2 linked regions of the Homo sapiens genome follow. The protein of the gene in region 2 purifies or fractionates together with the protein of the main gene of each other region. This does not show direct contact. Each region holds a gene or a part of one and is shown on either strand. Other genes may lie near its edges.

The links.
Region 1: the proteins of SERPINB8 (region 2) and EEIG1 purify together in Homo sapiens (affinity purification with mass spectrometry; 2 studies listed by BioGRID and IntAct, with this or other methods). This does not show direct contact.

The regions. Positions count from the first base shown.
Region 1 is NC_000009.12:127,953,390-127,956,989, forward strand, and holds part of EEIG1 (early estrogen-induced gene 1 protein), read right to left. Parts: intron 537-3,600; coding exon 416-536; intron 216-415; coding exon 186-215; intron 1-185. UniProt on the Homo sapiens protein: Key component of TNFSF11/RANKL- and TNF-induced osteoclastogenesis pathways, thereby mediates bone resorption in pathological bone loss conditions.
Region 2 is NC_000018.10:63,967,688-63,971,634, reverse strand, and holds the start of SERPINB8 (serpin B8), read right to left. Parts: upstream 1,555-3,947; 5' UTR 1,465-1,554; exon of another isoform or gene 1,131-1,464; intron 1-1,130. Other genes in the region: serpin-like protein HMSD, read right to left, coding at 2,984-3,297. UniProt on the Homo sapiens protein: Has an important role in epithelial desmosome-mediated cell-cell adhesion.

The DNA.
Region 1 (3,600 bases), on a different chromosome or scaffold from region 2:
AACCATATGCTGCCTTTATATTGAGTGCAAAGACCATCAATAAAGATATTTCTAAAAAATAACACATCTCAGGTAGGGCTGAGTGCCTCTTGCTTGTGGCAGAAAAGGGGCTGGAGGCTTCCCTTGTGCCTGTCCCATGCCACCCCCCATTCCATCCCACTGCCCCTTCACACAGCCCCTCTTACCTTGGAATAAGCCTTCCCGCCTTTCAGCTCCTGCACAGGGAGGGAGACACAAGCAGCAAGTTGACTGCAGAATCCCAGGGACCTCATGCATCTCCCACAATCCCCCCAGATCTGAGGGGAGGAGGGCAACGGGCAGAGCAACTCACCCCATTTTCAGCTGGGGGTGCGGACTCATGAGGGGAGGGGCCTATAGCCCAGCCCAGCAGCCCCACATGCGCCCTTGGCCTCACCTTGCGCACAGACACACGGAAGACACAGGGGTCCAGCAGGCCGGTGGCCGGGTTAGCACTCATCTTACACACGAAGGTGAACCTCTTTCGCCACCGCACACAGTTCTCCTGTACCTCCTCCCTGTGGGCCAGAGGCGACAGGTGAGCACAGGCACACACATCCGCGCCAGGGGACTCCATGTGGTACCAGGGACATGGCACTCCCCATTGGGACTGAGGCGGTGGGAAGCTCCACTTTCACTCTGTGTCACAAAATAGCTGTGTTTTCACCACAAGAATGTACTCGTGTAGTTGTTGTAAAAACAACAGTGAAAACGTAATAAAAATGAGACAAACACAAGGCAGGGGTGAGGTGAGCTAGGGCAGCTGTCCCTCCCCAGGAAGCCTGGCAACCTGCAGAGCCTCCCTCTGTACCCAGTGCTGCTCCCGCCACCTTGCTCTGAGACCTTGGGCAGTTCCCTGCACTGCCATTACCTCCTCCAAAGCCAGGCTCTGCCAACCGCCTCATGACCCTCACAATAGTCTTAGGCTGGACTACTCAGCCCATTTCAAAGATGAAGAGACCGAGGCTAGGCAAGCTGCCCCACACCTCCCAGCCAGTAGATAGCTGAGCTGGGCCTGAAGCCTGGTTCCTCCTGACTCCAGAGCTGCCTTCTTCATCACTAATAACAACAATGACAATAGTAACAACAGCTGATACCCACACAGTGATTCCCATGTGCCAGGCACTGTTCAAAGAACTTCACAAGAGCCAGCAGGCCCTGGAGCCTGCTCCAAGTGCCAGAGAAAGGTGGTCATGCCAAACCTTTCCAACCTCTGTATGGAGCAGCCACATCATCAGCTCAATCCCCAGTCAAAGAAACTGGGGGCCCGGAGGCTAAGACCCTCACCTGAGGCCCACCACAGGTAAGAGCAGAATGGGGATTAACCCAAGCAGTTGGACTCTGGGTGCGGAGACAGCGACCTGGGGGCTTCAGCTTCACCAACACTAAGCAGAGGGCTCTGGTCTTCTAGCCCCCCGGTTCCTCCTGAGTTGGAGAGCATGACCATGCTGAAAAATTCAGCACCCCTCTACTGGAGAGATGCTTTGTGCCCTGGGAGTGAGTGGGAGCCAGTGGCAGCAGCTCATCCAAGCCCCTCCCAACTGCTGCGGGGGCCTTGGCAGGATCTGGGGGTGGCAGCGGCACGTGGCAGAACCGAGCTCTGCATCCCCGAGCAGCTCCCCATCTCCATACAGCCTGCCTGGCAGAGCCCGTGCTCAGGAAGGGGTGGCCAGGGAAGGGAGGAGACAGTGTGAGAGACGTTATCTCCAGCTCATCCCACCTAAGCACAACCGCCAAGGGGACAGCTAAGGAAGTGACCCGAGGAGAGTGGGTTAACTGCCAGATCGAGGCCTCAGGGCAGAGGGTCGGAGAGGGCCGCAGCCAAGCCTCCCCTGAGCATCGCCAGGTTTGCTTTGCATGGCAGTCTTGCAAGGTGGGCTCTATGCCACCCCTTCTACTGCTGAGGGCACTGAAGCTCCAAAAGAAGGCCACCCTACCCGCCACTCGAGCTCATATCCCCAGTGATTGGCAAAGCAGGATTTAAACCCAGGACTGTATGACTTCAGAGTCAGGGCTCTCAGTCGCCACTTTGGCTCAGGAGCCCGGGAAAGCCTGGCGAGGAGAACCTGTGGTGTTGTGGGGCCTGTAGTACCCTGCTCTGCCCCAAGGCACCGCCCAGGTCTCTGAGTGCCAAGCAGGTGCTGGGATGAGCCACTGCAGACTGTATTTACCCAGTGATGACTCATTGTCACCAGGAGAGGGCGGGGGAACAGATGAATCAGGGAAGGTGACATTCAAGCTCAGGATAGAATGAGCCTGGGGAGTAGCCAGGTGGAGGAGACAGTTCCAAAGAGAGGAAACAGCATGAATGAGGGAGTCCCGTTTCCTTAGCCAATGAAAGCCCCTAAGCCTCACTTTCTATGAGGAGCCCCCTCCAGGCTCCACAAGGCTTTGAGGATGTGACCAAGGCTTACCCTGTGCTCCTGCCAAGGCGGTGACAAGGGTCAAGAGGGCAGGCAGACCTGGGCCACACCCTGCACACTCACTGGGGCACACCGCCCCTGTCGTGGCTGCTGTTGTGGGAGCACTGAGTGAAATGAATCCTGCAAAGTGCCTGGCCCGGTGAAGGCTCTGTGATGTCACCAGAATGCACCTAGCTTGTTAGGAGGGTGAGCTCCAACAACCCTCTGCAACCAAGACTGGGGACAAGCAGAAAGGTCAGGGCTGAAGACGGGAGGAAGGGACAGATCTAATCCCTATAGGCAGGTGCCACAGGAGTGGGGGCCCTAGGCTGGGGGCATCACTTGAGCCTAGTCATGCTGGCTCCACTTATTCATTCATTCATCATCAAACAACTGAGCACCAGTGTGTGCCAGGCCCTGTTCTAGGCACTCGAACCACAGCAGTAACCAGCTTACATTCTGGTGGGAGGAGAAAGAAGAAGACCAAATAAATAAGAAAAATACCTAGTAGTGGAAAGGAAGAACTAAAACTATATTAACAGATGACTTGATCTTTTATACAGAAAACACTTAAGGAATCCACTAAAAAACTATTTTGTTTTATTTATTTATTTTTTTGAGATGGAGTTTCGCTCTCGTTGCCCAGGCTGGAGTGCAAGGGCATAAACTCAGCTCACTGCAACCTCTGCCTCCCGGGTTCAAGCAATTCTCCTGCCTCAGCCTCCTGAGTAGCTGGGATTACAGGTGCCCACCACCAAGCTCGACTAATTTTTCTATTTTTGGTAGAGACGGGGTTTCACTGTGTTGGCCGGGCTGGTCTTGAACTCCTGACCTCAGGTGATCTGCCCCCCTTGGCCTCCCAAAGTGCTGGGATTACAGGCGTGAGCCACCACACCCGGCCATTATTATTATTATTATTATTTGAGACAGAGTCTCACTCTATGGCCCAGGCTGGAGTGCAGTGGCACGATCTCGGCTCACTGCAACCTCCACCTGCTGGGTTCAAGTGATTCTCGTGCCTCAGACTCCTAAGTAGCTGGGATTACAGGCATGTACCACAACACCTGGCTAATTTTTGTGTTTTTAGTAAAGATGAGGTTTTGCCATTTTGGCCAGGCTGGTCTCGAACTCCTGGCCTCAAGTGATCCATCTGCCATGGCATCCCAAAGTGCTGGATTAC
Region 2 (3,947 bases):
AAGCAGAGGGATTGTCTGCAATAGAGAAGTGGGGGCTGGAATTGCCAGGCAGTGACTGCTCACATAGGGACAGAGCACAGGAGGGCCCAGTCCCGAGGCGCCTAGCTGTTATAAATTCATACTCAGGGTGGGTCGTGAACCACTGGAATTTTAAATGAGGAGTCAGGCTGGAATGGGGAATATGACTTGTTCCATTTGAGATGCGTGGAACACACCATACCAGGTGAACCTGTAACAAAGACAGCCAAGGATGTTTGTAAACAGTTAGGGACGGGGATGAGTAGACTGTCTAGAGCCAGAGACCTGGAGCCATCAGCATCCCGATTCCGAGAGGTTCCATGAGAATGGATGAAACTACACAGAACATCTAGTGGAGGCACAAGGGAAGAAATCCACCTATTTCTGTGGAATTTCCAATATCTGGAGGTAGTAAAAGGAAGAGACAGAGGAGGGCGAGGGGAGAGCGCGCGCGCGAAACGGAGACTGAGACCCAGCCATCAGGGTGTGCTGGGAGAACTGGGGAGACGAGTCTGCCCCTGCGAGTGGACCCAGGGAAGAGGGCGCGGTCTACGCAGAGCCCGAGGCAGGGAAGCGGGAGGGGCCCGGAGAGCAGCCCTGGGTGAGGCCCTTTGGAATGGAGAGGTCTCAGGAGTGAAGCAGCAGCCAGAGGACTGAGAGTGTCTGGAAAGTGAGGAATTGGTTAAAGTAACGCCGGTGGCTGCAACAGAGAGGGGCGTAGGTGAAGAAGCACCCCCAACCCCATCCCATTTGAGAGGAAGCAGACAATGAAGAAGAGAATATGAAAGATACAGAAAGATGAAGGCAGGGGTGGAAAGAACGGAGGGGGGGGACAGGAAGGGAAGGAGAAGGTGCAACCAATAGGCTGTAAGCACAGGGGCAAGCTTGGGCGCCAGGGGAGCAGGGACTCGGCGCCTCCCCGATCTGCCCCAGGCGCCACGGAAATTCCAGGCCCCGCCACCCGCACTCCCGGAGCCTCCTCCGCAGCGGCGGCTCCTCCCACTCGCCCTCCCGGGGCTCCCGCCCAAGCTTCCGGCGCTTCCAAACTCACTGCTCGCGTCACCCCCCGCTCCCATCCGGCAGCAAATCACAGCGCAGCAAATCGCAAGCCTAGAAACAGACGCTCCCTCTCCAGGGGCAGCTTCCTATTCAGGGCGGGTCTGGGCGCACCTGTTCTCGGGACCCGGCCCTCGGCCTTCGCCGGGTCTCGCGGTGGGGCTTGGGACCCCGGCTGGTGCCAGGGCGACCCCCACAGCCCCGCGACTCTCTTTCCCGGCCGCCTCCCGCCGTCATTCTCCTAGTTCCTGCCCGCCTTTGCCTCGCTCTGATTCCTGCTCTGGCCTTCCTCCCTTCCCCTCTCTCACGCACTCCAGGGAAGAGGTGGCCTCCGCGGGAACCTGGGCACCTCCGTGCCTGCCCCGCCCGGTACCTGGCAGAGGCCCCCACCTCCTGCTGCTGCTGCTGCTGCCGCCGCCGCCGCCGCCGCTGCTGCTTTGACTATTCCTCCTTTGTAGATGCTTCACGTCCGCCTTGATTGAGGGCAAGGCTTCCGGCAGATGACTCAGAACCGTTCGATTGCTCTGGCTTGTGCAATCCCTGATTCTTTGGGCCTGTGTGGATGTCTGTGGGCACCGGAGAGAGGGCCAGTGCCTGGTCCTTGGAGGGTGGTTTTTATAAAAAGTGTACACATTGGCTATTGTCCTTTTTTCACCGTTGATTCACGTTTGACTCCACTGTAGTTAGACGTCCACCCAAACATTCTCTGAAATTGCTCCTGATAAGGATACTAATCATTTTCTAATTGCCTTGGCCAAAAAATACATCCCAGGTCTTATTTCATTTTGTTTGTTGGCGACATTTAGCCCTTTCTTCTTTGACCTTCCCAGGATTTCCAGAGCACCCTTCCCTTCTTTCCTGACTCCTTTGCTTGGTATCCTGATTCCTTTCCTACCATTCTAAGCCCTCTTCTTTTCATTATAATATGATCTTCTTGTATGACCTCCACTATATCCATAGGTTCATGTTTCAACTTTTAACTTATTTCTTCAAAATCTCTAACCTGTCTCGAGCCGTAGATGTTACCTGTGTACTACTGGACATCTCTCAGAAACCTGGGTGTGTCCCTCCGCAGTTCTTTTAACTAAATGATCAACAGTCCTGTTACTTCTATCACTTTTGTGTTCCTCCTGTCCATACTCTGTCACCTCTATCATGTCTCATGTCTCTCCTAAACAATTAATTTTCCTACCTACAGTTCTGATCCATGCCAACCTATTGCCTACTCTGAAGTTCAGGTAAACATTCCAATTCTAATTATTTTATACCTCAGTTTAAAATCCTTTATAACATCCTCTTATCCAAAAAGATAAATTAGAAACTATTGAGCAAGGAGTGTAAGCCTCTTCACGTCTTGATTTCTCCCTTCTTTTCTTTAGAGCCATAGCAAATTATTTACATTCCTTCATATCCTCTGTTCATATACATGGGGTTCCTGGCATGCAAGCTTGTCTTTCAAAATTCAGTTCAAATAATGTCTCCTGCAGGAAGCTCTCACAGAGCTCTCCAGTTTGGGAATTCTGCTTTTAAAGATGCACATTCCCACTCTGCACCCCAAACCAATTAAGTAAAGATCTCTTGGAGGAGGGAACCCAGCAGCAGTATTTTGTAAAACTCGCTCAGTGATTTCCCTGTGGAATCCTAAAAGTAACTGTTCCCAAGAACTCTCCTCAATAAGTCTTGGTGCAGGATTCACCCCCATCTTTTCTCCATGACTTTGAAACCCCTCTCTCTAGTGGCTACAGACTCACATTTGAACTGTGCCCAAACTTACCGGCTCTGCCAGTTGAAAATGCCAAGGTCACTTCCCCATTGTGCATCAATTTCTCCTTGTTGGTCAGAACTAGATCCAGACTTTGGGCCCCACTTTGTCCATCCACTCCTTTTCCTCTTTGACCAGCAAAACAGATTAAAAGATGAAAAATGCTTGTTTTCCTCCGTGAAACTTCCAGCAAATGCCTGGTGGTTTGAAGTCCTTTACAAAGGATATAATTTGGCCCCTGGGAGTTTGGTTGTAAACACAGATATCCCATGTAGGAAACACAGTGCGTGCAGGTGCAAAGAGGCACAAGATAGCACCATGAAAACCATGACGTATCCAGGCCTGCAGTGGTACAGATAGTGTGGATGAGGCACTGCAAGACAACGTCTGATGTGTCCACAGGGCCATGTCGTGAAGGCCATGTGGACGCTGTTGGTGGTGTTTCTTCGTTCCCTTGTGGACTATGGGGAAACACAAAAGGATTTTAAGCTGGGGAGAAACATAATCATATTTGTATTTACGAAGGTCCCTCTGGCTGCAACATGGAGTATATTGTAGGAGGGTACCATTGCCTGCAGTGAGGCGTTAAGGACGCAGCATGGATGAGAGATGAGGAAAGCTGAAATGAAACAGAGGCAGGAGAAATGGAGAGGAGGACATGGCCTTGAGGAATTTCCAGGACATAAATTTGGCATCACTTCTTGGACCATGAGAGGAAGAGGGAGCAGGAAGAATCAAAGATGAATCCAAGAATGAACAAATCTAATTTTTGAAATAATGCAATGAAAAGTAGAACTGGTCTGTTTTCCTAGGTAAGGAATTTGTCTGCAAGTCGATATTCACGAGGATTAATTGTATTTATTTTCTGAGTATGGACAATTTAAATGCTGGGCCCTGAAGGGAAACCCATCTCTCAGAATAACTAAAGCCCAATTTCAGAGTGAGCCTGAACAGGCTCCCCACTCCACCCTGGCCCACTGGGGACACAACAGGTAACTGATAAGGTTCCAGAGTATATAATTCAGTGCCTCAGAAACTGTCCTCAGCCTCATCTTCTGTCTTCTTGCCTCATACCTAACTTCACATCTCTTCAGTCAGTACTAGGGAGTAT